7 linked regions of the Homo sapiens genome follow. The protein of the gene in region 5 purifies or fractionates together with the protein of the main gene of each other region. This does not show direct contact. Each region holds a gene or a part of one and is shown on either strand. Other genes may lie near its edges. The genes, in order: TMEM201, EMC10, ALG13, KIDINS220, CGRRF1, PLEKHB2 and DNAJC16.

Region 1 (4,484 bases), on a different chromosome or scaffold from region 5:
ATCTAGTCCCACTTTCTCCACTAATTGCAGACCCCAACTGCCTGTTCTCTCGATCCCAGGGATCACCAACCACGCTGCCTTTTCCTAAATCAGGCGCACGCACCCCAAGGGCAGGGGCCCCAATTCCAAGTGGCTGGCTGAGAGCTGAATGTGGGACCCAGGGACTGCCTCATGTCCTGTTGCCACCTGTGGGCTCTGAAGGGTCTGTTGCAGCATGCAGATAACCCTCCCCTCACCAGGCCAGGGGATAGGCTGGATAAGGGTGGTCACAAGGACCCAGCATGCCAACCAGGGTCCTTCTAGAATCCATTCTATGGATGCTGGGAGAGGCCGTCTTCCTGCTGGGCATGGGCTGCAGGACACAGGGATGAGGTGTGTGGCAGAGAAGCGGACTGAGGACAGACAGGGAGACAGCAAGCTGGATTCTGGCCACAGCACCTGAGCCCGGTCCAGCGCGTCTCTGAATACATGAGCCAAAGCCCTGCAGGAACTCCTGCCCCCGACCCACCCTCTGGCGATGGAGACCGGGCTCCTCCCCCCGACCCACTCTGGTAATGGAGACTGGGGTCCCATCTGTCACCGGACACTCCAAGACAAGCTTGCGCCCCAAGACCTCTGCTGCTACCTCAGACAGGTCGCTACTGTGTCCCTGCCTTGAGCCTTAACAGGGAGATTGCCTGTTCTTCTCTGTGGGCAGGAGCCCCTGCCTTGGAGGCCTGAACTGGCCCTGGGATTGCCACGCTCCCCTCCCAAGGGGCTTGAAACAGAAGTCCCTGAGCTCTGCCACCTTGGTCAGTGCGCACAGAGTTTACTCGGAGTGCTCAGGCCCAGGGCAGGGCTGCTCCTGGCACCTCCCACCCCAAGTTCCATTCAAGTGCCACCAGGCTGGGGTGCCCTGAAAATAGGGGGGTATCTCTGCTTAGGGGAAAAGCAAAAGCATCCTAATATAAACCTTGGCGTGTGTACAAAATGGCCTGCCCTGTAACTGCACGAGAGGAGAGGGGCCTTGGCTGTTATCAGCATCTCCTCCCCTAGAATAACTAGAGTGGCCCCCTTTGCTGAGGGGCATGTTGCAATTTTAGAGGAAAAGATTAGGGCACAGCACGGTGCACACATTTACCCAAGGTCATGTCACCAGAGCTGGGACTAAGGGGCCGTGCTGGGGCTCCCAGATGATATGGCAATTCTGGGCACTTTATTTTTATTTTTGTTGAGACAGGGTCTTGCTCTGTTGCCCATGGTGGAATGCAGTGGCGTGATCATAGCTCACTGCAGCTTCCAACTCCTGGGTTCAACCGATCCTCCCACCTCAGCCTAAATAGCTGGGACTATAGGTGTACGCCACCATGCCCAGTTAATTAAAACAACTTTTTTTGTAGAGACAGCGTCTCCCTATGTTGCCCAGGCTGGTCTTGAACTCCTAGCCTCAAGCCATCCTCCCACCTTGGCCTCCTAAAGTGCTGGGATTAAAGGCATGAGCCACCTATTCCTAGCTAGCCCCATTTCTTTGGGGGGAACTGAGGCTCAAAGCTCTGTGCTGCCTGTCTCTGCAGCAGGAACACTAACCACTCCCGGCCCTCCCTACACTATGTACCCATCCACAGTTCTGTCCCAGCTGCCCCTAGCCCTGACTGTCTGCCAATGCCTGGGCACCCCTTACCTGCTCGAGTCAGAGAGGGTATGGTTCCCAGAGAGAGGGCCCGGCTGAGGCGGCCAGGCAATGAGGAGGGTGAGGTCCGTCGAGGAGACCGGAAGAGCTGCTGGTTGGCGAGGGGCAGGAAGCTGGGCGGGCTGGGGATGAACAGAGACGCTGGAGAGCCTCCGACACTCGGGTGAGGGATGGCCAAGCTGGGGCTGGTGGGGAAAAGGCCGGCAGAGTCTCCTGGGAAGAACCTGCAAGGGCCCGTCAGGCACGGGACAAGAAGAGGGTCAGCGGGAGGTCCTGGAGGCAGCCTTGCAGTGGGTCCCACCCCTCTCCCACAGTGCAAGGTGGGGGCCTCAGCTGGGGTCCCAGAGGAGGCGTGCGTTAGTTAAAGCAGAAAAGCAATCCGACCACATTCACGCCATTAGGAGCGGGTGGCTGGGAGGTGCCAGCAAGACCCGGCCCTCCCCACATGCCCCCTCCTACCCCCTCGGCTCACAGCAAACTATCTCCACTACGAGTCTCGGTATTAAAGTGACACTGTCGCCTTTGCCAACCTCATGCCAACCCTTTCGCCTTGAAGCAAAAATGCCCAGCCCCGTGCCAGGCACTCAATGAAGGTTAATGGACTTGGACTCCTTGCCACTTCTTGTTCTGTGCCGAGCCTTCCCACAGAGCGGCCGGGCTCAGGGACATCCTGGCTCATCTCCCAGATGGGCCTGGATCATAGGAAGTCAGGCCCCAGCACGGCTCTGGGCACCCTCTGTTCCCAGGTGTGATTCCTGGAAGTCCTCCCACAGCTCTGCCCTTAGAAGGCTGCCTCCTGCTCTCTGGCCTTGCACTCTGGAAACTCCTCTGAAGTTCCTGGTAGAGCAGAACTGGGGGGCAGCCAGGCCTTGGAACCCCCTGGAAGAGGCTCTCACAGGACAACGCCAAAACCGAACTTAGAAGAGACCCATCCACGACCGCAAGGCTGCCCGAAAGACGGAAGGTGACAGTGTCTCTTTAACTCGAGATGGTACAAATCACACAACAGGACCTGATGGCCCCACGCCAGAACGTCAACCATGCTTCTGATTAAGGCACCCAATTACAGAGGGAAGAGAGGGACAGAGGCAGTTAATACATTAGTCCACCGTCTGGACGGAGCTCCGGGGGTCCAGCCTTACCTCGGTGCCAAGGGACAAATGAGCCCAGTGGACAACGTGCTGGTGAGCGGGCAGGCTGGCCCACGCCCTGCAGGAGCCGGGGGCTGCTTAAGGGACCTGCGCCCAGCATGACTGCATGCTCGGGGATCGCTAGCCAAGCCGCGCGCCACCAACCTCCCTGCTACTTTCCCTCTAAAAAAGTTTTATAAGGAAAGTGTGGGGCCAGCTCTTGACTTCCCGGAGAATCATGTAACCTTTCTAATGCCTTCCAAGGTGCCAGGAGACCACCTGGACTTCAGAACCAAAGGCGAGGCCATGTTTGGCGAATGTGGGCATCAAGGCAGGAGCTGAGCTGGGGACCCTGGGGAAGGCCCCGGTCAGCCGGACTGGACACATCCTTGTTCCGCCTGCTGACCTGTGATTCCCAGGCCCAGCGCCCGCTGCTTGCCCCCAAGACTCCAGGGAAGGCTCCACCTCTACACAGAAGATGAGGTTTTGTGTCGTCATGTTAGAATTCTGATTCCATTTGGCGGGACAGCGCAGCGACTTCAGGGAATGACCCTGAGGGCACCTTTAGGCAGGGGCAGTGAAGGTGTTGCTGGGACCTTGGGGCATGACCCTCCATGGGAGGGAGTTTGTGGGGCAGGGCTCTGCGCTAGGCTTCCTGTGCCCACCCTGCCCGGCAGCACAGACATAGCCAAGAGTCAGCCAAGGGTGACCAGGTCCCCCAGTGACCTGAGAGTACCGTTGGGGGATGTGTGAAAGGAGGGTCCTAGTGGGCTGTGGGTATGAGGTGGTCAGCTGGGCCACGCAGCTCCTGGCCCCAAAGGGTGGGCTCTAGCAGGAGTGGCTGGGTCTTGCCAGTGCATCCCCACTCCTCCCAGCTCCTGCTCACACCACCCGGGGCTGCCTCAGTGCTTAAAGGCTGAATCTCCTGGCCACCTGGCACAGGGGCTGTTGTTCCCAGTTTGGTGCCACTGAAGATGGTGCTGTGGGGAGTTCCTTCGCAGTTTGACTCCCTCACTGTGATATGTGGGAACATCACTCAACCAGCAAGACCTCGTAAATCGCTCACAGGGCTGGGCATGAGGGGCTGGGCTCTGTACAGGCGCCCCAGCGAGCCTCCGCCAGCTAAAGGAGCCCAATCTGTTGGACCCTGGAGAACTCCAAAGGTGCTAACATTTCCTTTGGCGAGAGACCCCCCCCGACTGCCCTGTGCCCTCAAACCACGTCTCAGAGAGGGACTAAGAGACCAGGATCAGGCCTGGATGCTGGCTCTGGGGAGTGTCAGAGAGGGACTAAGAGGCCAGGATCAGGCCTGGATGCTGGCTCTGGGGAGTGTCAGAGAGGGACTAAGTGACCAGGATCAGGCCTGGATGCTGGCTCTGGGGAGTGCCGGAGCGGATACGCTCATCTGACACCAAGGGGAGATGTCTGGTCTTCTCCGACCCAATCCCAGCCCACATCAGGAGTGGAAGGAGAGAGACCACGTTTTAAGCAACAGTTTATTGAGACGGAAAAAATATGATCCAGCAAAGGCGAGGAGGCGAGCCGGGCCCCGAGCCAGCTGGTGTCATTGTCACTGGCTCCCAAACCTGACTCCTGTGGACGTGTCTGTACCCCAAACACAGCTGCCCACCCCAGCCCTGGCACAGAGCCCTTCTGAAAGAAAGAAAAAAGAAGAAAGACGCGGC
Region 2 (4,484 bases), on a different chromosome or scaffold from region 5:
CACATGAGGATGGGGACAGCCATTCCTTGGGTTTCTGAATAACGTATCAAGTGAGCAGTGAATTTCAATCAAGCTTGTACATCAGGACCGTCTTGCCAAAACAACAGTTGCTTTTGGCTGCTGGAAGCTGTAGCTTTTCAAAACGTTCACACATTTCAATGTATCGTCGATGTTTTTAAATAGACTTACAGGGAGGGTGGCACACAGCAAAGGCCCGCAGGCCCTCGTAGCACCGCAGTCCAGGTAGGATGCTGGGCGGCGGGGGGTGGTGGAGGGGGTTCTATTTACAGTGTCTGGGCTTTGACTCCACTAACTGTTGGTTTTGTTTTCTTTCTTAAACCTTTTCCTTCAAGTCTGGAAGCCTGTGGAGGGCCTGTCACCTTAAAGGCAAGGATTCCTTGTTTGCACCAGGCAGACAAATGTCAAACCACGACCCCAGGGGCTGCACTAGGCGTCGGGCCCAGAAGCCCCCGGCCATCCAGCCCCGACTCTTTCATGCCTCTGCCCCTGATGAGGGGACCCAGGGTACCCTCAAGGGGACACAGAAGGGAGGCTGCATCCTAGTCCAGTGTCAAAGTGAGGGGGGCGCTGCAGGAGCCTGGACAGGACCACCTAGCCCAGCCAGGGACAGGAGGGTGAGACCACCTGGAACAAAGGCACAGAGGCTGGAGAGAAGGCGGCATGTTCCCAGACTGCATGGGCTCGGGGTAGGGGGATGCGAGGTCAGAACTGGCATAGTGGCCAGGATCTCGGGCTCTACTCCATGGGCAGGGGGGAAGCCCCTGGGGCTGCATGGGGCCATGGGGGAGGCGGGCGCAGGAGACACCGGCTGCTGTGCCAAAGGCCCCAGTCCAGCTGCTCCTCTGCCAGCAGAAGGCAGAGGACAAGGGGCTGGCCCAGGTGGCCTCGTGGGACGGGGGGAAAGGAGGGACCAGCAAACCCTTCTTGGGATGGCTGAGGACACAGGGGACTCCAGCAGAAAGGGAGGCCCCTGGGTGTGCAAGACGGGACGCTGACCAGCCTGGGCCCTCACCGGCCACTACCCCCACCACCACCCCCACCCCCACCCCCACCCTGGCCCCCGGTGTCTGGCGCTCCTGACATCATGAGGAACAGGACGACGGGAATGATGTACATCCACTGCAGCCGGACGGAAGGATGGACAGACAGACACAGAAAGAGAGAGAGAGGGGAAGGAGGTGAGTGTGGGCATCACCCACCCACGGTGGGGACCGGCATGAGGGGAGGTCGCGTAAGGGGAGGGCGCCCAGGTCCCCTACGTCACTACAGGTCAGGGAGGGCCAGTGGGGCGCAGGGAGGGGCAGGGGTCTCGGTCCTCACTCAGGCCTCCTGTGGCGGTGGCGCGGGCCCTGGCGCAGCAGGACGCAGGGCTGTGAGCAACACGGCCCCCCCCAGGATGATGTGCCACTGGGGAGGGAGGGAGCGCAGGTCAGGGCCAGTGGGCTGCCGTGGGGCCTGAGGGCCAGCAGGGAGTGGGAGGGCGCTCGAGTGGGCAGCAGGGCAGGGCCCAGCAGGCAAGGGCTCAGCCTCTGGGCCTCAGTTCCCTGCAGCACAACTGTTGGACTATCCAGGCGGAGCGGGTGAGGCCCTCAGGCAGGGCACTCAGCACAGCAGGGCTCAGCCATCCCAGCCTCAGCATCCTCCTAGCCTGCCTCGGGCCACACAGACCTCTTCGCTGGCCTTGGCCTGCCTGGGCTCCTGTGCCACAACCTAACACCAGTCTCCACACTCAATGGACCAGAGGCCTGGGTGGAAGCCACCTCCTCCGGCTGTCCCCAGCCTCCCCACCCCACGCCTCAGCCTCTAAGCCCCCGGGACTCAGACCTGCTGCTGGCAGCACAGGCCCCTCCCTCCTCAGCTCCAGGAGGCCTCCCAGGCACCCTGCTGCCCCCAATGCCCCTCCCTGGGCCACATCCCTCCCGGACCCACTCCTCTCTCCTTCCTGTACAACCCCCTGAAGAACCTGCTCGCCCCTCCTTTCCAAGCCTCCCTGGTTCCTTTGAAACCTCCACTGTTCCCTTCCTCTCCAGCCTCATGGCTCCAACCTAGCTCAGGCCGAGACCTCCCCCAGGACCCTGCGCCCTAGAGCTGGCCCGACCTCCCCTGACCACACTTCCATACCCTCTTCCTGCAAACAAGCCTCAGCCCAGGTACCAGGACACACAGGAGGCCCGGAGGACAAGGAGCAGGCCCGAGCACCATAGGGGAGTCTGGGTGGGAGCATGGAGGGCCTGGCCAGGCACCGGGACTGTCAGGAAGGGAATAGGGGAGGCGGGGGAGCCCCACTCACGTATTTGGCGAAGAAGGACTTCTGCTCCTGGGGGTTCTTGGCCTTCTGGGCCTGTTCCATCTCCAGGCGCTCAATGAAGGCCGCCGTCTCAGGGCTGGGGCAAGGGGAGAGGAGGAGAAGGGTGAGGCCCGGAGTCCAGGGACCTGGAGACCCTGAGGCCGCCAGGAAGGGCCGGGGCAGGTGGCAAGAGCGCCGCGAAGGCAGCAGAGGCTCACCCTGGGGCTGTGGTGGGCGGCTGCAGCTGCACCGAGGTGTTGAACAGCTCCAGGTCCACGTCCTCCACCTCATGGCCCCGGCAGCCCCCGGGGTGCGTCACCACCGACACGCCCACCACGTTGCCGGCCACATCCACGTGCAGGGTCAGCTGGTCCGACAGGTGCGACTCCACCAGGGAGCACTGTGGGGGGAGTGGGGTCAGTGGAGGTGGGGAGCCTGCTGCCTGGGCTCCACCCTAACCTCCCCCGGCCCCCACCACAGGACCCCCGGAGCATTTTTCAAAACCTTCCCATGGCTCCCTGTTACCCTCAGGCCCAAGTTCAACCGCCCCCCACCCGGGAGTCCTCACAATGCTATCCCCATGAAAGCACCCGCTACCTGGACCGACCCCTCCAGACCAGGAGGCCTCGGAAGGCAAGGCCAGGTCTGAGTCTCCCAGGCCTCTGCGGGCTCCAGAAACACAGGGGTTCGAATGGTGGAAGCAGGACCAGGGTAGGGGATGAGGAGGACGAGGGAGAAGGGGGCTCATCCCCGACACCAACTCACCGCAGGGACAAAGGAGGAGACATAGCCACCAGCTTCCAGGCCATCCAGGGCCCCGGGTCGCCTTGGGATCCGGACCCGGTACAGGCCATTCAGGGCTGCCACATCCTGGGGATGGGAGAAGAGGGTGCTGGTCAGAAGGATGGTGTCAGCCCTGGACAGGCTGTGATGCCCACCAGGCCTCCGCGAAGGCCCCTCTCCAGCCCCACCCACCTCACGGCCCACACTCCCCAGGCCAGCCAACCTGAGTCGACCCAGGACTCTTCCTGTTGGGGTGGCCCGGCTGGTGGGTGAGGCCAGGAGCAGCTGGGACCGCCCCACCTAGGGGAAAAGCCACCACAAGGAGGGCAAAGCCCAGCCCAGCGATGGAGTGGGTCCTGAGGACGCCTTCCCTGTGCCTGGATCCAGCTGCACCTGGCGTCCACCCTATGCCTGGACGTACCAGTTACATGCATAATAAATTCTGTTTGGGGACAGCTGTGACAAGAGAATCATGTGGGTACCATGCAGGAAGGGTGCTCAGGCAGACCTCACCGCGTGGCCACCAGAATCAAGCCTGCACTCCCCAGCCTCCCTCACAGCTACATCTGGCTGATGGGTGGAAGTGGGTTGTGCCAGCTTTTGCAAGCTTTCTCTAAATGCTGCTGCTCCTTCTGCCCCTCTTTCTCCCTCTCTATCCTGCTGCCTGGAGCCCTGGGGCCTCTCTGCATGACCCCTGCGGAGGATTGAGCTGGGCCCTTGAGGCTGCCACAACACAGGGCGACAGAAGTGAGCTCCTGTCCAACCATAGCTATTTTGAGGCTTTCTCCTCACAAACAAATCTCATCTAAGTGGTCATGAAACAGCTCAGCTGATCTGGAAAAGAAGAGGAGCCGACTGTGTGAACCTGCAGGGGAAGGGGGTCTGCCAGCAGAGGGAGCAGTGCAGGAAGAGGCCGTGATGCAGGACACCATGCCTGGCGGCGCTAAGACGAACTGCAATGCCGTTCCTCCAGGGGCAGTCATTGAGGACAGAGGCTGAGAGTGGCAGGTGGTGCTGGGAGCCCACCTGGGCCTGGAGGGAAGGCTGCTGGGGACCAGCAGGGGGTGGCTGAAGAGACAGCTGGAAACCCTCCATCCCCATCCACACCCAGCCCTGAGGGCCCCACCTCACCCGGAGTCGGCCCCGCTCCTCCTCGCTGAGCTGCCGCTGTGACAGGGACAAGGTACCATCCTGCTGGTTCCAGAGCAGTGAGCCCCGCTTCCGGAAGTTGGCACTGTCATCTGTGAGGAGCTCAGGTTCAGAGACGCCCCCTCCCCCGCCCACCCTTCAACCCAGGCAGGGGCCAGGAGGTCCAGCTTCAAATTTTGGCCTGGCCTCCACCCGAGTGACCAGGTTCCCTCCCCATCTGGGCCCCCATTTTGCTATCTGCAAA
Region 3 (4,484 bases), on a different chromosome or scaffold from region 5:
AATGCCCATCAATTAATCATCAAGTGGATAAAGAAAATGTGGTGCATATATACCATGGAATACTACTCAGCCATACAAAGAAACAAAATAATGGCATCTGAAGCAACTCAGATGGAATTAAAGACCGTTATTCTAAGTGAAGTAACTCAGGAATGGAAAACCAAACACTATATGTTCTCACTCATAAGTGGAAGCTAAGCTAAGGAAGCAAAGGCATAAGAATGATACAATGGACTTTGGGGACTCGGGGGAAATGGTGGGAAGGGGGTGAGGGATAAAAGACTATACATTGCTTACAGTGGTACACTGCTCAAGTGATGGGTGCACTGAAATCTCAGAAGTCATCACTAAAGAACTTATTCATTGTAACCAACCACCACCTGTTCTCCAAAAAACCTATTGAAATTAAAAATTAAAGACAAAGAGTTTTTTTTTAATGTATGCTGATAATTCTGAAGACATTTATCCTTTATTTTAGCAACAATAGAAATTTGCTATGGATTTGGTGATGGGGGCAGAGGGCTTGGAACATATGAAGAGATTGAAAGCTATTGAGGTTGTTTAAATTCAGAACAAAAAGGAACATGTGACAAGTGAAATTGAAGGAACAGAAAAAAAGTATTCTTGTCATCCCTTGTGGTAAGATTCTTACTTGGCTACTTCAAGAGGTGATATCAAAAGCACATGATATGAGAATAGTAATGGTGGCAGGAAATGGGGGAAAAAACTTTCTCTGGAAGGAGCAAAGTAAGGGAAGGAGAAAGAACAGAAAGAGAATTACGTATCAGAGTTTTCTTCTCCTTCCTAAGGTATATTGTCTAAACAGTAAAAACAAAAATTTAGTACATGAAGCTGCCACAGTTTAGTCATAATTAGAGAATATAAGGTAGTTATTCAAGTTCTTCATAAATATTCCAGATTTCCTGAATAGATGGTAGGATTGCCCTTCCCAGCTCCATCCAAAGTCAAGAATGACCATGTTACTTGGTCAATAAAATATGACCAGAAATGTCAGTGTTCAATTTCTGTATCTTTTGCCCTGCTGTGATGATCATGATGGCATGTGTCCATCAGCCTGGGTCCCTGGGTGACTATGAAGAACAGTCATAGTCTGGCAGCCTGCTGCCAACTCGCATTGAACTATATAACATTAGCAAGAACAACTTTTCCTGAGTTAAGCCACTGAGATTTTGGGGGGTTGTTAACTGCAGCATAACCTAGCTTGACTAAAACAGAAATTGGTAACTAGAAGTAGGGTACGGCTATAACAAAATCCTAATTGAGAAGGAGATTATGAACATGTAGCTCTTAGGGTAAGCAATTTAGAAGACATGATGTTAGTATTGTGCTTTGATAACTGTTGGCATTGTCTAAAGCAAGTTATTTTAAGACAGGTGTATGTAGGAGAGAATTAGTAGTTTGCAGGCAGGAATGAAAGGGAATAGATTCCTTGCATACAGGGACTCACAGGGTTGAAGGAACAACTGTTTCAACCCTAAACTATAAAAGGTAATATTGATGAATGGTTTGAACAACGACAAACAGTGAAAACTCGACCTCGCAGCAAGAATGAACTCTTTGGTTAAAACCCGAGTGTATTAAGATGTCTCAAAGCTAGAGTTCAACTAAGGATGTAACACCTAGTAAATCCTTGCACTTCAACAAAATGGCTTGTAGAAAAATGTCCAAAATGCATGGCTCTTCCATCAGTGCCTGATAAACTCAAGCCACTTGCAATCAAATAGACAGAAATATAAGGATAAAACCACAAAGAATTATAGCAAATCTTAGTAGTATATCTATAGAAAAGAACTGTAGTATGGCTATTGGTACATGAAACCAAAAGAAATCAAACAGAAGCAGAATAAATTAATCTTACAGCCAAAGAAATCACGAGCCAGAACTAAAACCATTCAACTGAGATAAAACCACCCTTGGGCCTCCAATCTTCTGTAAGTAGCAAGCTTAGAAAGCTGCTCGGTTGCCAAGGAAGGATTATTCTCCAATGCCTACTCCAAACACTGCCAAGGAAGGATGGGCCTTGGGAGTAACCAAGAGCCCCAGAAAATGAACGAGAGTTCCTCCAGGGAAGAGTCCCATGAGTATGTTGGGGGCCCTTACAACGTCTGCCCATGAAGGTCTCAGAATTGCTACAGGCCAATAACTGTTTTTTTCTCCCTTTATGAATAGAAATTTCAGTCCCTGCTTCAGCACTGTAAACTGGGGAGGGAGGGGGAAAAAATAAAACCTCTGTATTTTTGGTTTTAAGTCTCAAGATCACAAGAAGCTACATCTGGACCCAATATAACAAGTACTACACATAGCCCAGAAATCCTAGGCTTTGAGTTTGATTACACTGAATGGGACATTTTAGGATGCCTCCTTTGAGACAGAAACAAGTATTCTGCCTATGAGAGGGAGGGCAAGTTGAATGATATAGTTCTTAGCGCTGTTAACATGTTTCTTTTTGCCTTCCAGCACAGAAAAGTTAAGACTCTTCAGTGGGACCTGCTCTGGCCAGTGAAATGGAAAAGAAAGTGACATGTATCACCTCTAGTGGAAACTCTAAGAGCCAGTGCACCATTTACCGAATTTTATTTCCTGCCTTGGCAATTGTGGATGAATTTCCATCAGCCTAAGTACCTGAGCAAGCCCTTCTACAGACCTCTACTAGACATGTAGCATAAAGGAGAAGCAAACTTTTGTTATATTGAGTGAGATGTATCATCCATTCTAATAAAAAAATCATAATAAAACCTTCTAAAAGATCATTACTGCCTATGTTAGAATATCTCTAAATATATTAGTTCCAGAACACGAGTTAATTTCTGTCTCAATTTCATCTTCAAAATGAGAATGATACTAAGCCTCACAGGGTTGTTCTGATTTAAATACATTTATATGTATAGCTCTTAACAGTGCCCTAGTACATAGTAGGAGCTATAACTCTTTGCTATTATTAAATACCTACCAAGTTTGCTGTAGATGCAGTTGTGCTATAAACACCTGAAGTTTCATAGTCTGGCTCTAGAGAATATAGCCAAAGTAAAAAATGAGCATTATTTTATAGCTTGAAATTCTATAAACAATGATGAATGCCAGATCACTTCTAGATCTTACTGACCTGCACGATAAAGATATTCTTCATGATATCGCCCTGGGGAAAAAAGACAAGACAGAAGAAATGTGTTTATATAGGTCTTTTTAGCTCAGCAGAGCCAAATGGCCAGCACTTGCTTTTTCCACCAGTTTTATGGTTATATGTTCAAAACTAAAATGCATACATCCTGAAAAGTGATATGAGCTTTCACACTAGTCAACAGATATTGAAGCCACAGACTAGCTGTAAGCTGTACAAATTTCTCCTCTGAAAATCCACTTAGCTCTTAGAGGTCAGGCAGAAGTGAAAACTCAGTTGTGTCCAATTTTTCCAGTGAGGCTACAGTGTGGTGATTAAGCACATAGGCTCTGGAGTGAGGACTGCCTAGATTTGAATTCTGATTAACTACATGACTTTAGGCAAGTTATTTAATCTCTGTGCCTCAATTCTTCACTGTAAAATGGAGTAACAGTACCTAGCTCATAGGCCTTTTGAGGATGGTTAATGGAAGTGAAAGTAACTTAGCATAGTGCTTTACACATACTAAATACTCAATGGTGTCTATAAAGTATGAGTATAATCCACTGTTTCCTTAGGTGGACATTAAGGGAACATGTATGCCTCATCTGTTTTTCAATCTGTTTCATGTAAGTAATACATGTAAAATGAGTGTGTCCTCAAAGGATGGCTCAGTAGACTGAAGTACTTTTAAGATTTCTGTACCACTGAAATGCAGAGAAAGTCAATACTCAATCGGACAGTTTTCCACCAAATATAAACCCGCAGTTCTAAACTAAATTTGATTCTTAAACACACCACTTATCAAACACACACGCATGAAACTCCTCCAGATTTAAGGTGGGAGCAAAGATTTGGTTATTTCAAATATGCCACACTACCCATAGAGCTAAAAGACAAAAGGGTCATCTAAATAAGAGAGCAGACAGTAAATGTCCTTAAGCACACGCATGCACACACGTACAAAGTTTTCACAGATCATTCTTGCACTAGATTTTTTTACTCATTAAATTCCTAAAAATATCTATTTTTTTTCTACACTAGTAGAAAAAAAGAGTACAAGAAAATAAGGAACTTATTCATAAGTCAAGTCATTAGGAATGCCTGACACCTCCTTAAGCCACTCAATGCTCCACAATTGTTTCAATAGGGATATACAGTATCTTTTAAAAGTAACAAGGTAAAAATAAACACATTCCATGGTAGGAGTCAACATAAAAACTGTTAAGGCTATGTGTGTGTATACGATTCCAATTATAAAAAATGTCCAGCAGAGGCAAATCCATAAAGACAGAAAACAGACTGATGGTTGCCAAGGGCTGGGGGTTGGGGCAAATGGGGAATGGCTCCTAATGGGCACAGGATT
Region 4 (4,484 bases), on a different chromosome or scaffold from region 5:
TTCTCTCTCACCTCCTGTTGTGTAGGCATTGTGCTAGATATAAAGCAGATCCTGCTGCAAGAACTTCTAGTCTAAGGGAGATGTGGAGAGAGTGAGTAAAATGGAGAGGAGAGTTGAGTGTGATGTGAGCAGTCTACAACTAGATGTATACACAGGTGTGGAGGAGCCCAGGGCCTGGCCCAGCTTGGGGTAAGCAGCCAGTCAATGAAGGCTTCCAGAAGATCTGTTAGAGCCATGTTCTTAAGGATGGGTAGGAGCTGTTCAGGCATATATACGTGGAGAATGGACTTTCTAAGCAGAGGGGGCATTAAGTGCAAAGGTCTGGAAAGAACAAAGTGTGGGGCAGTGAAGGAGCTGCAAGTAGATCAGTCTGGCTGGAGCTGGAGGTGTAGATGTGACTATGTAGAGGGTGGGAGGGATGGGGCTGAGGAGGGGAGAAAGATAAGGCTGGAATGGTAAGATGGGGCCAGATTGTGAAGAATCTGCATGCCCTCATCATAATCAAGAATTGAACTTACTGAGTTTTCACTCTGCTCAGTGGAGAGCAAAGCTTTCCGTAGGAATTGTGTATTTGCATCTTTACAATGGCTTTAAAAGCCTTAGAAGGCGTAAGTTCCTTGAATAACTTGTAAGTAGTAAAGCTGTCATCTGTCCTCCCAACCTTGGTTTTAGGAGAGATGTATTGTAGGTCACTCTTGCTTCAGTGTGGCAAATGGATTGCAGGTGGCAGGCCTGGAGAGAGGAGGCAAAAGTTGCTAGCCTGTCACATTGATCTGGGTGAGAGATGGTGTAGTAGAAGTTTTTAGGATTGATGCCTAGATCACAACTGTTTACTCTTTTCTGGAAACAGTGCCAATATGGTGTGACCTTGTAACCCCCTCCCAACTTTGTGTCTCTAGTTGCTTGGTTCTGGGTGTGCAACAGATCCAGCCTGGGCAGTCAGAGCCCTTTTCTGGGACTGTTGGATCTGGGAACAAAGAATAGCCTGCTTTCTCTGGTGTTAGAGACTATCTGATTTAGGCCAGGTGCGGTGGCTCACACCTGTAATCCCAACACTTTGGGAGGCAGAGGCAGGCGCATCACTTGAGCCCAGGAGTTTGAGACCAGCCTGGGCAACATGGTGAAACTTCATTTCTACAAAAAATAGAAAAATTAGCTGGGCATGGTGGTGTGCACCTGTAGTCCCAACTACTCAGGAGGCTGAGGTGGGAGGATCGCTTGAGCCCTAGAGGTCAAGGCTGCAGTGAGCCATGATCGTGCTACTGCACTCCAGTCTGAGTGACAGAGTGAGACCCTGTCTCAAAAAATAAATAAACGATCTGATTTGAGGCTGGATGGCTGTGGGAAGCCATATTTCCCTTTGTGTAGAAGTAGTTGGTCTAGAAGGAAAGTAGATTAAGCCAGTAGAGAAAGAGAATCCTCCTGGCATTTGAGGTCCAGTGGCACCCACTCTTCCTGTAGTGTGGTTATGGGAAATAAACCATTATCCTTCAAATACATTTTTCTGTTTTGCTTAAGCTAGTTTAAATTAGTCTCTTGCAACCTTAGGGGTCTTGATTAGTATAGATGGTGAAGGTCTAAACTAAGGCACTGAGTGTGGGGTTGGGTGATCTCACACTTTAGGGGGTAAACTGGATGAAAAATGGTAGCTGTGTGACTCAGAGGGAGATGGGTGCCTTGGTAGAGTAGAGATGAGGATGGTGTTCTACATGGAAGGAGCACATTGAGCATAGGCGGGAGTGTGGAGCAGCACTGGGGGAGTGTGGTGAATTTGAGTTCTTCTGCTTGGCTGGGCTGTGGGGTGAGCTGGGGCTGGTATAGAGGGAGAGCCAGATCCTGCAAACCTCACTGAGGCCTTAGGCTTGATCCTAGAAGGAGTGGGAATAAATGAAGGTAGGTGTTGGTGATGACTGCTAATACAAACCCTCACTGCTTTCTAATGATAGAAGCATCACATTCCAGAACATGTAGGAGATAAAGGTTTTAAAGAAAATAAAAATTACACTAATGCCCATCACCATTTGTTCTTTTTTTATTTCCAGTATTTAAAAATGTATACATTTAAAATAGCTGAGATGCTGTATATATAGCTCTTAATCTTTTACCTCACTTCTTCTATCATGAGCATTTTTCTGTAACACATTTTTTGAGACATTTTGATGACTGTATATTATCCTACTTTGTGAATTTTTATAATTTATATAATATCCATTTCTAAGATTTTTGTTCTTATGGATAAAATTGTTTTACTTAAAATCTTAAAATTTTGTTCATGTTTCTCATGTTTTTAGAATAATTCCTAGAAGTGCAACTATGGGATCAAATAACATCATTTTTTAAAATAATAGTTTTTCACCCCAAGAGTATAAATTCAAGTTGTTCTGAATATATACTCCCTAAAAGTAAGGTATACTGATTTATACTTTACATGTAATAACATTCACCCTTTTTAATGGACAGTTCTGAATTTTGACAAACGAATGATTGTGTAACTGCCACAACAGTCAAGATATAGAACAGCCATTAACTCGCCAAATTCTCTTGTACTCTTTTGTAGCCATCTCATTCCCCTGCCTTAGACCCTGGCAGCCCCGATCTGTTTTCTGCCCCTGCAGTTTTCCTTTTCCAGAATGCTATATAAGTAGAATCATATAGTGCTATAGTTTCTGCCCTCTGGCCCCCAGAGATAGATTTCCTTCCTGTGTCAAAACATATTCACTCCATCGCAAGGCCTCCCCAAAAGTCTCAGTTCATTTCAGCATCAACCCAAAGTCCACAGTCTCATTTAAATCTCATCATCTAAATCAGGTATGAGAGGGTCTGGGTGTAGTCCATCCAGAGGCATGATTCCTTTCCACCTGGGAAACGCAAGAATCAAGTTATCTGCTCCAACTTAGAGTTAGGGAATGGGCATGGGATATCAGTTATAGACAGTCCTGTTCAAGGGTGGAGGAAAAGGAAGGCAAAGAGGATTCACCAGTCCCAAATAATTTCATTTTCATAACAGCCAAAGTTTTCAATTTTGACGAACTCTGGTTTATCAGTTTTCTTTTTTTATGCACCATGCTTTTAGTGTTATATCAAATCTTTCTTAATCTAAGGTCACTGAAGTCATCTATATTTTCTTCTAGAAGTTTTGTACTTTCAGACATTATATTTAGGTCAATTTTGAGTTAGCACCTGTATGTGGTACAAAGTATGGATTGAGGTTTATTTATTTGCATTTGGATGTCCAGTTGAATATAATAAAATTTCTACTCTTTTAGAACTTATAGTTATGGTAGACAGACAATAAGTGAACAATATGTCATTTTTTGGATGGTGGCAAGTGGTGTGGAGAGCAGTGAAAGCAGGACAAAGGGTTGAGAGTGCAGGGTGACAGTGAAGCCTGTGTGGGGTCGGTACCCTGACATCCCACATCCGGTGAGACTTTGTAACCAGGTGACCTGACGGGGTCAGGGGGTAAGCCGTGTGCATGTCCTGTGGAAGAGAATTTTAGGCAGACAGAAAAGTAGCACAGAGGCCTGGCGAGGTGGGACGGTGCTCAGTGTGGCCATGCAGCCAGGAGGGTGAGAGGGGGTGGTAGGAGCTACAGTCACAGGTGTCACACAGGTGAGAGGCTTGCCACTGAAGAGTTATCTTGGCCAAGGTAAAAACATTTGATTTTACTTTGAGCACCCCGAGAAGCCCTTAGAGGGCTTTGAATAAAAGAGGCCATGCTCTGACTTAGTACTGCTCACATTGTGGTTCTTCCTCAGTGTTGTCAGTGTCACAGGGAGCTGGATAAAGATGCAGAGTCAGGGGCCCCACTCAGACCTGCTGAGTCAGAATCTCTGACGGTGGGGCCCAGGAATCTGCTTTAAAAGCTCTTCAGGTGATTCTGATATATGTTAAAGTTTTAAAAAAAGTAATGTAATTTTAATTGACAAATTATATATATTTAGGGGTACAATGTGATGTTTTGATACATGTATCCATTGTGGAATGATCAAATCAGGCTAATTAACATATTCATCACCTCCCATACTTAATTATTTATTTGCAGTGAGACCATTTAAAATCCACTCTTCCAGGTAAAGTGGAGGCAGGGAGGCCAGTTAGGAAGCGATGATAGTGACGCAGGTGAGTCACGGTGGCTCGTCCAGGGTGGCAGTGATGAAGTGGTGAGTAGTAGTCAGATGTGAAATGTATTTTACAGGTAGAGCCAAAAGCATTTGCTAATAGATTGAGTGTAGGGTGTAAGAGGAAGAGGTAAGTCATGAACAATTTCAATGCTTTTGGCCTTGGAAGAATGGACCTGGAGCTGCCGTTTACTGGCATGGTGACAGCAGGAGGAGCAGGGGAGCATTTTGGAGTGGTGATGAGGAGGGTTTGGGGATGGATGTGGAGTTTGGTGTTTGGATAAGTTAAGATGGAGGTGAGTGTGAACCTAAGAGACATCACGGCAGCTTTTTGACACCTGAGCTATGGAAGCCGTGGGAAGT
Region 5 (3,928 bases):
TGTTTAAGAAATAGGAAGTTTAGACAGACACAAAAGGATATTGTATGATTCCACTTACATGAAGTACCTAGAATAGTCAAATTTATAGGGACAGAAAATAGAATGGTGGTTGCCAGAGGCTGGCGGGAGGGAGAATGGGTAGTTATTGTTTAATGGGCATGGGGTTTCAGTTTGGGATGATGAAAAATTCTGGAGATGGATACTGGTGAATGTTGCAAAACAATGTGAATGTAATTAATGTCAACTAATTTTACACTTAAAAATGGTTAAAATGGTAAGTTTTATATATGTATATTTTACTACAAACGAAGTTATGAAACATGGAATAAGAATGCAGGCTTGGTGGAGTCTGCTTCTGATGAGAAACCAACTAAGTGTCTAGGACAGTTAAGGTACAAAGAGATCTATAGAGAGGCAGCAGAGCTAGGATGGAGTCTGAATATTCCCCCAATTTACATGACAGATTTTTCAAGATTGTTATACTGCTAGTTAAGGGCAGCAGGGACTGCAGCTTAAGGGCAGCAGGGACTGCAGCTTTGGACTACCCTGCTTCCAGTGGCAGGGTTGGAACAGAGTCTTAGGAACTTCGGGGCGGGGCGGGGGAGTGGCAAGTCGGGGGGTTCTAATTAGCCATCAATGCTCTTTTTATGCTCAAATACCTGACATCAGGAGTCTTGCCTGATTCTTTGTAGCCCAGACTCTCAACAAGTATCTGGCTCCTAGAAGGTATTTATTACATAGCTAGTGAATGTAGATGAAAGTTTGATTTGGTTTATATAATGGAGAATAGATAATGTCTTCTTCAGAGTGCTATACCTGGTTGGAATGGAATTATATAAAAATGCAGATACAAAGGTAAGGCATTATTCTTAATACAAACAGGACAAAAAGGGGCTTGAAAAATCTCCCTGAAGGTCACAGTTTATTTGCCATGATCTGCTTTCTTGGTGAGTTATGATAATTCTCACTGAAAACATGGAAAGCTCTGATTTACCTTTTTCTTTTAGTTATCTTGGAAAGAGAAAAGGGTGGGGTCTTTCTGCCTACCAAGTTTCAAAATTCTTACAGACAGAACAATGGATGAATAAAGTAATTTACTATTCAGAAGAATACAGGGTTTATTTGGAATAAAAATACACTAGAAAAAAATAGTTATTTGTTTCTTTTAGTGATTTTTCTAGCTCTATAACCTCCACCTCCCACCTCAGTTCTGGATGGATTTGCTGTGCAGGCAGAAATCTAAGGTAAGGCATTAAAGGTCTCACAGATCTTCCCTGGAGATCACATTCTGCTAATCTAATCACACTTGACTATCAATTTAATAAATTTAATTATCCAAAAAATCTTATTATCCGAATTTTATATATCTGCCTCCTATAGATGAGTATCATTTTATAATACACGGAGAACAGTCAAGAATTATATCTTGTATTTATGATTTAAGAACCTATATTTAAAACTATGACCTGTATTTACGTAACTATAATAAGGGACATTAGAAACCAAACAGATGGATATTTATAAAAGCTGTTATTTCAGGAAAAGATCTAAAGAAGCTCATTCCAACTCCTTTGTATAAACTAGGGAACACACAATTACTTTAAGTAGAATTAAGTTTTTTCTTAATTGCACTCCGATTACATCAAAGGTAAAACATTTAGTGATCTTAAGAATTTAACCTCCTCAAATTTTCAATGGATTGCCTTTCAGAATGATTTTTCTAATTAACATGAGAGGAAATCTAGCTAATAAAAGGCCAAACTCTTAGATTCTTTTCAAGAGTTGAATGAATTTTTATGTATCAACACAGATGGATTCCAGTATTCATTCACTAAGCAGAAAGGAATAATTAATTTTTATCATCCAAGTACCATACAAATATGAAGTTAAAATATAATTTTCATTGATGGTCAGTACTGTAGATTCCATGTTATGATGAATTCCAAGATCATCAATTTCTGCATCTTTAGTAGAAAGTGTACTTTTCAGTGTTACGATGTCTTCAAAGAGTCTTCGGTTTGTCTTTATCTTGCTCTTTTTGACTGCAAAGTGCAAAAGATTCCTGAACAAACTGCCTGCACATTGGGCACTGCTGAAAATACTTCACACAGCCATCACACAGGCATGTGTGTCTGCATGGTAAGAGTACCCAGTTCACAGTCCCATTCTGGCAAACAACACAGTCCTTGCTGTTCTCTTCCGATGGCTCAACTTCACTTTCAGAGAGTCCCACCTTTTCCAACAAACTTCTGTCTGTGTTTTTTTCTTCTGAAGAGGAATTGTTGGAGGGAGTGAAATTATTATTTGCAGACATGAAAAGTTGCTGAAAATCAAAGAAATAAATTTAAAGATTATTATAAATAACAATTACTCTTTAAAATTGGGGGTCATAAGAAGCGGCTTAAAATTTATGAGCTAGCAAATTCAATTGCAAAGAACAGTTAGTTATCTTCTGTAATTATTAACTGAAAAATATAATCACCTTTCCATAAATGGCCATTCTTTGAAACTCTGTAAACAAAAGAGACAGAGATAAGACTACAGAGTACGGCTTACCTTAAGATCATGAAATTGACCTTGAGCCAAGAGTAAATATTGATACAATATTCTGCAGGATAGTTTATAAGTCCTATCAGGAATATGAATCACTGACACCATGGAAATCTAAAATAAAAATTGAACACTGGTCAGTACTTAAAATCTTTATATTATTTCACAAATATATGAAAAATGCTTTTCAACTGCTTCTAGACACTGTCTTCTGCCAAAAAAAAAGAAAAATGCTTCTCAAAAATAAAAGGCTGATAAATTAGAAAATTTACGTCAATCTGATTAAATCATAATCACTGCAGAGGAATCAGTTACTGACATATTTTTGGCAGAGTTATTTTAATTGTACTCAAATTTACAAATTTAATGCTATCACAATGGACAAAGGAATCTTTGAGAGGACTAAAGAAGGAAATGGAGAGGAATTAAAATCAGTATTAAACAGTCTTTTAAGAAACTTGGATGTAAAGGGACCAGAGAAAACACTTTTGCTTAGAGAGCTACATGCATTGACTCTAAAATTCTCATATAGAAAAATGAACACAAAAGAACAGCTAGAAAAATACTGAAAAGAGAGAGTTATGAGGGCGACTAGCCCCATCAGATAATAAAACAGACTACAAAGCCTTTAAAATTAAAACAGTATGGTACTGGCACATGAATAGACAGATGGATGAAACAGGATAAACAGTCCAGAAACAGACGTAATTATGTACAAAAATATAATAAAGGTGTGATGTCAAATCACCAAAGAGTTTTTTTAATAAACAGTATTGGGACAATTGGATAGCTATTGGAAAAATATATAATTAGATGCATTCCTCATACCATACATAAGAATCAACTCCAGAAACATAAGAGATCTAAATGTAAAAAATAAAACTGTACAAGTACTAGAAGAAAATCAACAAATTCCATTTTAGTCTCAGTGTAAGGAAAGACATTAACTACAACTCAAAACCCAGAGGAAATACACTTGACTATATAAGAATTAAAAATATACATGATAAAAAGCACCATAAACAAAGTCAAAACACATGACAAACTAGAATAAATATTCACAAGGTGTGTCACAAATTAAAGGTTAATATTCCTAATTTATGAAGAACTTTTAAAAACTGAAGAAAAATGGCCAAAATCCTATAGAAAAATGGGCAAAAGACATGAACGGACAATTCATAAAAAGATATAAACATGAGCCTTGACCATATTAAAAGATGTTTAATTAAAATTAATACTGCACCATTATTCACTCATCAAAGTAACAAAAATCCAGAAGCTTGTCAATACACTCTGTGGAAATACACTCTCATATATTGTTGGTGGAAATGTTTTTTTCCAAAAAGGTACAATTCCAATGGCAATATCTAACAAAACA
Region 6 (4,484 bases), on a different chromosome or scaffold from region 5:
ACGTTATAATCTGAAGAAAGTGGTCTTCCCTTCAATACAACCCCAAATGAAAAGTGAATCATTGGCATGGAAGAAAAGACTGGAGATACTCTCAGTGACAGGAAAAAGATGAAAAGATCAGAGATATGTTAGACTAAAAAAAGTTCAGAAAGATTATTGATGTCCATAAAGTGTACAACCCAAAAGAGAGAATTACAAATCTAAGGCAAGAAAAATGTTCTGAAATAATCGAACTGAATTGGCAGACCAAAGTCCCTACTAGACTCTTCCACCTGATATGACAACAAAATCTATATAAGATATATGAATAATCCAGTATGATACCCTTTAGCAAAGTGAATGACAATGGTATGCCACATACAAAATCAGTTGGGGAATTTTGCAACTTAACTGCATTCCTTAGAAAGCTAGAACACTTGGGCTGGGTGTGGTGGCTCAAGCTTGTAATCCCAGCACTTTGGGAGGTCAAGGCGGATGGATCACCTGAGGTCAGGAGTTCGAGACCAGCCTGGCCAACATGGTGAAACCTCGTCTCTACTAAAAATACAAAAATTAGCCAGGCGTGGTGGCAGGCACCTGTAATCCCAGCTACTTGGGAGGCTGAGGCAGGAGAATGGCGTGAACCTGGGAGGTGGAGGTTGCGGTGAGCCAAGATCACACCACTGTACTCCAGCCTGGACAACAGAGTGAGACTCCATCTCAAAAAAAAAAAAAAAAAAAAAAAAAAAAGAAAGCCAGAACACTTGAAAATAAGTGAATGAATCTTTCAACTCAGGGAGATAGTAAAATGAGAATAAAACATAAAAGGAATTGATGAAGATAAGAGGGATAGGGTCAGTAAGAAAAGTAAGGGGTAAAGGAGTGAGGGAGTGCACAAGAGAACACTATTTTGTTTTTTGAGATGGAGTTTCGCTCTTGTTGCCCAGGCTAGAGTGCAATGGTATAATCTCCGCTCATTGCAACCTCTGCCTCCCGGGTTCAAGCACTTCTCCTGCCTCAGCCTCTGGAGTAGCTGAAATTACAGGCATGTGCCACCACGCCCAGCTAATTTTGTGTTTTTAGTAGAAGCTTGGTTTTACCATGTTGGCCAGGCTGGTCTCGAACTCCTGACCTCAGGTGATCACCTACCTTGACCTCCCGAAGTGCTGGGATTACAGGCGTGAGAGACTGCTTTTTGCCTATGAATTAAGAAAGCTCTTGTGATACTTAAGGTTCAGATATCTAGTTTTTTTTGACAATATAGTGTAAAGTTGGTAGGTATAGAGATTGTTAGAATCGTTTTGCAGGGCATTTTGGCAATACCTGCTGAAATAAATTATGTTTTTATCCTTTGATGTGGTATTTTCAGTCTTTGGAATTTGCCCTGTGGAGATGTTTACATAAGAGTGTAAGGGTAATAGGGATGTTAATAGCATTCTTTTCTTCTTTTTTTTTTCTTGAGATAGAGCCCCTCTCTCTCATCCAGGCTAGAGTGCAGTGGTGTGATCTTGGCTCACTACAGCCTCGACCTCCCAGGCGCAAGCTATTCTCCCACCTCAGCCTCCCAAGTAGCTTGGACTGCAGGCATGCGCCACCATGCCCGGCTAATGTTTATATTTTTTGTAGAGCTAGGATTTCACTATGTTGCCCAGGCTGGTCTTGAACTCCTGGGCTCAAGTGATCCCCCTGCCTTGGCCTCCCATAGTGCTGGGATTACAGGTATGAGGCACTACATCCGGTCCCCAGCATTCTTTTTAATGTTGAAAAATTGCTAATCTAAATTTTTTACTCATATCGTGGAATATTATATAGCTGGTAAAAAGGAAGTAGATCTGTGTGTATGCCATGAACTGACAAAGCAAGTGGCAGTACATTTCACATTTATTAAAAAGTAAAGTAAAAAGTATAGTATAGATTATGTTTTAAATATTACATATCTATTATGTATGTAATTTTTAAAAATATATATTCCTAGTGCATGTCTCAAGTGGTTTGGGGCAAAGCCTGAAGACTTGTTTTTTAAACAGATCTTTTCAGGAATTCTGATGCCAGCCCAGGTTTCAGAATCATTGCAATGTTGGATTGCCTTAAATAAAGTACCCTTTTTCTTTTCTCCAGGGCCTGGAAATTTACACTCCAAGATTCTAGGACAAACACAGTAAGTTGCTAATGGCAATCACCAATAATTTTTTTTTTTTTTGACAAGGTGTCACTCTCACTCAGGCTTGAGTGCAGTGGTGCTGTCTCACCTCACTGCAGCCTCTACCTCTCGGGCTCAAGTAGTCCTCCCACCTCAGCCTCCCCTTCCCAGTAGCTGGGACTATAGGCCCATGCTACCACGCCCAGCTTATTTGAAAAAATTTTTTTGTAGAGACGAAGTCTCACTATATTACCCATGCTGGTATCCAACTTCTGGGCTCAAGTGATCCTCCCACTTTCGCCTCCCAAAGTGCTGGGATTACAGGCATGAGCCACCACACCCGGCCACCAGTAATGTTTTCACATGGTCTTGTGTAACAATTGGAGAATGGGGAAAACGGGTTTCTTGACCATCTGGCCACGAATGGGCAGGTAGTGCTGGGCAGGGCGCCTTTTGCCAACAGTGAGCAAGCTGGGTTTGTCAAATGTTTGGCAGGAGGCACCCTGCTCTTACAGGCATGCTTGTTCCAGTGTTGCTTTCTAGAAATGCTTGTATTTCTCAAAGTTCTGCAACACTTTGAATTGTGCTGTGGTTTGCAGTAAAGGCTTAGAAAGAACTGCAGGATCCTTTTCACGCATGGGAGCTCAGCCTGTGAAACAAACATTTTTGTGACTTGTACTTGTCTCTCGTCCTGTTTCTGGCCTTAGGAGGTCACTGAGACAGTGAACCTCATTTGTAGAGCCTCGTAATGCTGTCTTTATCTGTCAGTGATCAAGGGAGTGTGTTACTCTGGTCAGAGTTTTCATTCTTTAGATGGGATTTTTCTCTCCTTTATTAATCTGTAAGAAAAGAAGAAGGTGGATCAAGCTTACAGAAGAATGTGTGCATGTGGGAGAAGAAAGTAAAAGGCTTAATATCCTAATAGCGTCAGTGTTCTCTTCCTTTGTTAGCACACAACAACTTCATTCTAAGCTTACTCTACAGCCGCAGTTACCTTTTCTTCATGAAAATCCCCCTTTTTTTTTTTTTTTTTGGGTAAAATTAGCATTAACAATCCATACAGTTAAGGGCAAGCTCCCCAAATGATTCTTTGTGTGGATTTTTTTTTTTTGAGACAGTCTCACTCTGTCGCCCAGGCCAGAGTGCAGTGGAGCGATCTCGGCTCACTGCAACCTCTGCCTCCTGGGTTCAAGCAGTTCTCCTGCCTCAGAATCCTGAATAGCTGGGATTACAGGCACGTGCCACCACGCCCAGCTAATTTTTGTATTTTTAGTAGAGATGGGGTTTCATCATGTTGGTCAGGCTGGTCTCAACTCCTGACCTAGTGATCTGCCTGCCTTGGCCTCCCAAAATGCTGTGATTAAAGGCATGAGCCATTGCGCCTGGCCACTTTTTCTTTTTTTTTAAAGAGCTAACATGTTTTTCTTTAAATTATACTGGGGAGTAATTTAATGAAGAATTTTGTTTTTTAAGGTAAAAAACAGACTTATGTATAGGACATATCTCTTGATACATTTTAGATTGTAGAGTTTTTATTTGTGAATAAAGGACTGTTGAGAGTGCTGTAACATCTTTATTTTTTTGGAGACAGTCTCGCCTTGTTGCCTGGGCTGGAGTGCAGTGACTTGATCTTGGCTCACTGCAGTCTCGAGCTCCTGGGCTCGAGTGATCCTTGAGACTTAGCCTTCTGAGTAGCTGGGGCCATAAGCACCATGCCCAGTTAATTTCTTGTTTTTTGTAGAGATGAGCTCTCCCTCTGTTGCCTAGGCTGGCCTTGGAACTCCTGGGCTCTAGTGATCCTCTCACCCAGCCTCCCCAAAGTGTTGGGATTATAGGTGTGAGCCATTGCACCTGGCCTGATGTAACATCTTTTAAAAGGCATTGGGTAACAGTGGGGCCTCTGAGTGCCTTCCTGGCTGTGAGAGCTGTAGTCCTGTTAGGGGCCGAGTGAGGACCACTTTGCTCTTGCATTTAGAGGATACCAGAATAGGGGTGGGGGCCCCCACTGGACTGGGGGAGTTTTTCCTGTTTTGCAGAGAGCTATGTATCTTTTTGTTTTTTTAAATTTTTAATTTGCTAAATAAAAGGGACAATGCACAGCATCGAGCACACAGCTGCTGGGAAGCTGTCCTGTCCTCACCCTCTCCTGTCTCCCGCAGGCGTATGTGGGCTCTGCAGTCATGACCGATGAGACATCCGTGGTTTCCTCACCTCCACCATACACGGCCTATGCTGCACCGGCCCCTGAGGTAGGGAGAACCCTGAGCCTCCAGGTGAGGGAAGTTTGGGGTCTCTGCTGCTGTCCTGCTTTGTTTTGTTTTTTTAAATGAAATTAGAAATGTACTCTAAACCTTTTCTTCTTAAA
Region 7 (4,484 bases), on a different chromosome or scaffold from region 5:
AGGCTGAAGGAACAGCCAAGGCCCTGAGGCAGGAGCATCCACTGTCTTCATAGCACAGCAAGGACGCTGGGGACTGGCGCAGGCTGTTGGAGGAGTGGAAGAAGAGGGCATGGGGAACCAGGGGCCAAACACAAAGGGTCTTGTTGGCCTCTGTGAGGATTGTGCATTTTATTCCAGCTGAAATGGGTCTTTGCAGGGTTTGGGCAGAGGAGTGATGTGATCCATTTTTATGTTTTAGGAGGAGCAGCCTGGCTGCTATGTTAAGAACAGACTGTCAGGAGACAGGGAGAAATAGGGGGAGAGCATTTAGGATATTATTGCAGCAACATAGGCAGGAGAGATAATGATGACTCAGAGCAGGGCATATAATGAAAGTGATGAAAAACAGTTGAATTCCAGACATTTTCTAAAGAGAAAACCAACAAGACTTGCCGACAGATTGGATGTGGGGTGCAACAGATAAGAGAAGCCAAAGATGACGCTTACAGTTTTTGCCCTGAGTAACTGGAAGGATGGAGCTGTCATCAACTGAAATGGCAAAGACGTGGGTAGGACAGGTCTGTGGGAGGAGATTAGGGGTTCGTTTTTGGAAATGTTAAGCTTGAGAAGTCTAGTAGACATCCAAAAGAAAATGTACATTTATCGGCCTTTAATATTGAATGTGTCTCCAGTGTTAGCAGAGTAACTGGCCCTCCAAATATATGGTTGGATGAAAGAACAAGAAAAGTTGTTCAAGTATTAAGTGAAATAAGTATGAGATGACCCCATTTTGTTTTATGTATATGCATACACACACACACACACACACACACACACACACACATTTGTAACTCTTCTTACATATTGCCAGATTGCTCTACAGAAAAACTGAACCAATCTAGAATTCCAGCAGTGAAAGAATGCTAGACAGTCTATTAGGAAAGACATCTCCTATGAGGTCGGGATTTCAATTTCACACCAAAAAATTACTTAGCACTTTTTCCAGCTGCCATGGAGACATAAAAAGGCTTCATTTGGATCTTCCATTCTTTTCAGGTGTAGGAATTGGCGTGGTCCATGCTGGGTATGAGAGACGCCTGGCCCATCACCTAGGGGCACACAGCACGCCCTCTATCCTAGGAATCATTAACGGGAAAATCTCCTTCTTCCACAATGCAGTTGTCCGTGAAAATCTGCGACAATTTGTAGAAAGTCTTCTTCCAGGGAACTTGGTGGAGAAAGTAAGTATCTGTCAAGGAAACTATGGCTGAGAAGTAGTTTAAGAGGTACCTAGGACTGTTAATTGCCCAGAACATTTTCTGTAGTCCTCTCAAACCTGAGTTTCATTGTGAGGAAGGCATGACACTTATTAATTAATTAATTACTCAAACTAAATCGTTTAAGTGAAGTCTGTAGGAGACTAATAATTGAAACAGATGAAGTACAGAGACTGAAAGAATTAATTCCTATTAATACCCATCTTGCAGAACTTACACTGTCATAGGAATCTGAGCCTAAAATGACAGTGCCTATTTTCTAAACAAAAAAATTAAATCACATGTTAGAAAGAATTAGGGATTTCTTTCTGGCTCATAAATTTGTTCATGTGAAGATATTTGTCTTTATGCAAATTTAATTATATTTGGTTATATGTTTAACGATCATATCTATGGAAAATGCCAGATTCCATGAAATCAAATATTATTTTTGAAACTTCAGAAACTTACAGTGACAATAATATGAATGAATTTCACAAAGAAAAGGTTGAAATAGAGAAGCCAGATAAAGTTCACATTGGTCTATTATTTCCATATTTAAGCACCTAATATGTTTTTTTCAATATCTTAATTTAGGGATCAAAGTAACTAGGAACGGACTCTCATTTTGCTTTAAATAATTCATTCTCTTAAGAATACAGGGAAAGTGAACATAAAAAATTTTCATCGTATTTCTACATGTGCTATTCCTAGACTGTCCTACTGGGATCATTATCTATAGGAGAAATATTTGTTGGAATTAACTTAAAAGTTTGTCAGAGAATATTGGAGGCTTCTAAAATGGTGATAGATTGTCCTGATAGATCCTCAAACATTTACATAAAATATCTCTTCTGTGCCCGGCATAGATTAACATAGCCGTTTCAAGCAGCTCCCAAGCGGGTGGTTATTTCCAGTATGTTGGAGCCCATCGTAATGAGTTGGGAAAGGCTTCCTGGCAGAAGTGACCCTTGGACCAGGTTGGGTTGCAGGCAGGCAGAAATCTGGAGACATGAAATAGCCCGCTTTGTAAGAAGTTTTCACTGGTGAGCAGCAGAGGAGGGGGATGGAGAGGTTATTAGGAATCTCCCTGTGAGGGCCTCAGAGCACCTTCACGCTCCTTTAAGGAACTTGGGCCTTGGCCCACATGGAGCCGTTGTAGGGGTTTGAGCAGAAGAGTGAAATGATCAAATTTGAGTTTTATATAAATCATTCTAGATGCAGTATGGAAAGATAAACTTTTTTTAACGACTAAGAAAAATTTCTAGCTAGATAATTTATTCATGTTTTTAATTTCTCTCAGGAATATTTTAAGATATCAGTGGAGGAAAGTAACAATTCAGATAACAATAAATGAAATTATATAATGTATAGAGGGGGTGGACCAGCTTATTTTTATTTACGCCGTTTAAAAAGAGCAAGCTGGCCTGGAGTGGTGGCTCATACCTGTAATCCCAGCACTTTAGGAGGCTGAGGTGTGAGCATCGCTTGAGTCCATAAGTTCAAGACCAGCCTGGGCAACATACTGAGACCCAATCTCTACAAAAAATGCAAACATTAGCCAGGCATGGTGCCATGTACCTGTAGCTCCAGCTATTCAGGAGGCTGAGGTGGGAGGATCACTTGATCCTGGGAGGTTTGGGAGGTTGAGGGTGCAATGAGCCATGATCATGCCACTGCACTCTAGCCTGGGCAACAAAGCAAGACCCTGTCTCAGAAAAAAGGGTGAGGGGCAAGCTGGGAGACTGAGGTGTGATAGATAGATGGGAGACTGAGGCATGATAGATAGATGATAGATAGATAGATAGGTAGATAGATAGATATTGAAAGGGGCAGTTGTGTGTTATTTTCTGCTGGCTAGTATATTAAGAAGTATACTCTGTAATTAAGCAAGAACCAACTCTGGAAGCTCAGTTTTTATAATATGGTCAGTAATTGTTTCAGACAGGATTATGATTTCAGTCTGTAAGAGTTCAATGAAAATATGAAATCAATATCACCATTCTTTTAATAGCTTTAGCCAAATGAAGACAAAAAGATTAGTTATCTGCATTTTTATTTTTTGCAATCTTTTACACTTACTTGATTTGTTTATTTTCTCCTGACTGGAGTATAATACAATTGTTAAGAATTAAATATTGAGACTAACATTCTATTTTCAATTTAAGGTTACAAATAAAAATTACGTCAGATTCCTCTCTGGCTGGCAGCAAGAGAATAAGCCTCATGTCCTTCTGTTTGACCAAACGCCCATTGTGCCACTGTTATACAAGGTACTTTCTATGCTAGGATAATGGTTTCTTTTTCTTTTCTTTTCTTTTTTTTTTTTTTTTTTTAGCAGAAAGTAATCTCTGAGTTGGAACTTATAGCCTATTTGTCTTTTTTGTAAGAAACAGTTTCATCCATGAGAAATGTTTGAAGACCAGAAATTTTACATAACCATCATACATTGAGTACTGATTAATGCCAGTTACTGTGTTAGTGCTTTCTATGCACATATCATGTAATCCTCAGAAGAACCCAGTGATGGAGATACTATCCCTGTTTCTTTTTTTTTTTTTTTTGAGACAGAGTCTCGCTCTGTCGCCCAGGCTGGAGTGCAGTGGCGCGATCTCCTCGGCTCACTGCAGCCTCCATCTCCCAGGTTCAAGCGATTCTTCTGCCTCAGCCTCCCAAGTAGCTGGGACTACATGTGCGTGCTACCATGCCCAGCTAACGTTTCTATTTTTAGTAGAGACAGGGTTTCACCATGTTGGCCAGGCTGCTCTCGAACTCCTGACCTTGTGACCCACCTGCCTCAGCCTCCCAAATTGCTGGGATTACAGGCATGAGCCACTGTGATGGGCTTTTTTTTTTTTTTCGGAGACCAAGTCTCACTCTGTTGCCCATGCTGGAGTGCAGTGGTGTGATCTAGACTCACTGCAACCTCCGCCTACCGGGTTCAAGCAATTCTTTCACCTCTGCCTCCAGAGTAGCTGGGACTGCAGGCACACACCACCACGCTCGGCTAATTTTTGTGTTTTAGTGGAGATGGGGTTTCACCATGTTGGCCAGGCTGGTCTTGCACTCCTGACCTCAAGTGATCCGCCCACCTCGGCCTCCCAAAGTGCTGGGATTAAAGGCATGAGCCACCACGCCTGGCCACTATCCCTGTTTGCATAGAGCAAGATACTGAGGCTTAGAGCAGTCATATAACCCACCCAAGTTCTCACTACAGCATGGTGAGCGCGATTCCCACTGACTTCAGAC

What was found.
Region 1: the proteins of CGRRF1 (region 5) and TMEM201 purify together in Homo sapiens (affinity purification with mass spectrometry; 2 studies listed by BioGRID and IntAct, with this or other methods). This does not show direct contact.
Region 2: the proteins of CGRRF1 (region 5) and EMC10 purify together in Homo sapiens (affinity purification with mass spectrometry, with the first as the bait; one large-scale study listed by BioGRID). This does not show direct contact.
Region 3: the proteins of CGRRF1 (region 5) and ALG13 purify together in Homo sapiens (affinity purification with mass spectrometry, with the first as the bait; one large-scale study listed by BioGRID). This does not show direct contact.
Region 4: the proteins of CGRRF1 (region 5) and KIDINS220 purify together in Homo sapiens (affinity purification with mass spectrometry; 3 studies listed by BioGRID and IntAct, with this or other methods). This does not show direct contact.
Region 6: the proteins of CGRRF1 (region 5) and PLEKHB2 purify together in Homo sapiens (affinity purification with mass spectrometry; 3 studies listed by BioGRID and IntAct, with this or other methods). This does not show direct contact.
Region 7: the proteins of CGRRF1 (region 5) and DNAJC16 purify together in Homo sapiens (affinity purification with mass spectrometry, with the first as the bait; one large-scale study listed by BioGRID). This does not show direct contact.

The regions. Positions count from the first base shown.
Region 1 is NC_000001.11:9,604,966-9,609,449, reverse strand, and holds part of TMEM201 (transmembrane protein 201), read right to left. Parts: intron 1,894-4,484; coding exon 1,661-1,893; intron 1-1,660. UniProt on the Homo sapiens protein: Critical regulator of angiogenesis and endothelial cell (EC) migration. Promotes the migration of endothelial cells, which is essential for angiogenesis.
Region 2 is NC_000019.10:50,478,805-50,483,288, reverse strand, and holds part of EMC10 (ER membrane protein complex subunit 10 isoform 2 precursor), read right to left. Parts: intron 4,333-4,484; coding exon 4,223-4,332; intron 3,179-4,222; coding exon 3,074-3,178; intron 2,709-3,073; coding exon 2,527-2,708; intron 2,406-2,526; coding exon 2,312-2,405; intron 1,429-2,311; coding exon of another isoform or gene 1,342-1,428; intron 1,141-1,341; coding exon 1,030-1,140; 3' UTR 1-1,029. UniProt on the Homo sapiens protein: Part of the endoplasmic reticulum membrane protein complex (EMC) that enables the energy-independent insertion into endoplasmic reticulum membranes of newly synthesized membrane proteins.
Region 3 is NC_000023.11:111,729,068-111,733,551, reverse strand, and holds part of ALG13 (UDP-N-acetylglucosamine transferase subunit ALG13), read right to left. Parts: intron 3,158-4,484; coding exon 3,125-3,157; intron 3,028-3,124; coding exon 2,972-3,027; intron 1-2,971. UniProt on the Homo sapiens protein: Catalytic subunit of the UDP-N-acetylglucosamine transferase complex that operates in the biosynthetic pathway of dolichol-linked oligosaccharides, the glycan precursors employed in protein asparagine (N)-glycosylation.
Region 4 is NC_000002.12:8,827,254-8,831,737, reverse strand, and holds part of KIDINS220 (kinase D-interacting substrate of 220 kDa), read left to right. Parts: intron 1-4,484. UniProt on the Homo sapiens protein: Promotes a prolonged MAP-kinase signaling by neurotrophins through activation of a Rap1-dependent mechanism. Provides a docking site for the CRKL-C3G complex, resulting in Rap1-dependent sustained ERK activation.
Region 5 is NC_000014.9:54,536,458-54,540,385, reverse strand, and holds the end of CGRRF1 (cell growth regulator with RING finger domain protein 1), read right to left. Parts: intron 2,665-3,928; coding exon 2,557-2,664; intron 2,324-2,556; coding exon 2,003-2,323; 3' UTR 1,094-2,002; downstream 1-1,093. UniProt on the Homo sapiens protein: Able to inhibit growth in several cell lines.
Region 6 is NC_000002.12:131,128,624-131,133,107, forward strand, and holds part of PLEKHB2 (pleckstrin homology domain-containing family B member 2), read left to right. Parts: intron 1-2,097; coding exon 2,098-2,137; intron 2,138-4,278; coding exon 4,279-4,368; coding exon of another isoform or gene 4,369-4,392; intron 4,393-4,484. UniProt on the Homo sapiens protein: Involved in retrograde transport of recycling endosomes.
Region 7 is NC_000001.11:15,543,364-15,547,847, forward strand, and holds part of DNAJC16 (dnaJ homolog subfamily C member 16 isoform 1 precursor), read left to right. Parts: intron 1-1,035; coding exon 1,036-1,220; intron 1,221-3,403; coding exon 3,404-3,508; intron 3,509-4,484. UniProt on the Homo sapiens protein: Plays an important role in regulating the size of autophagosomes during the formation process.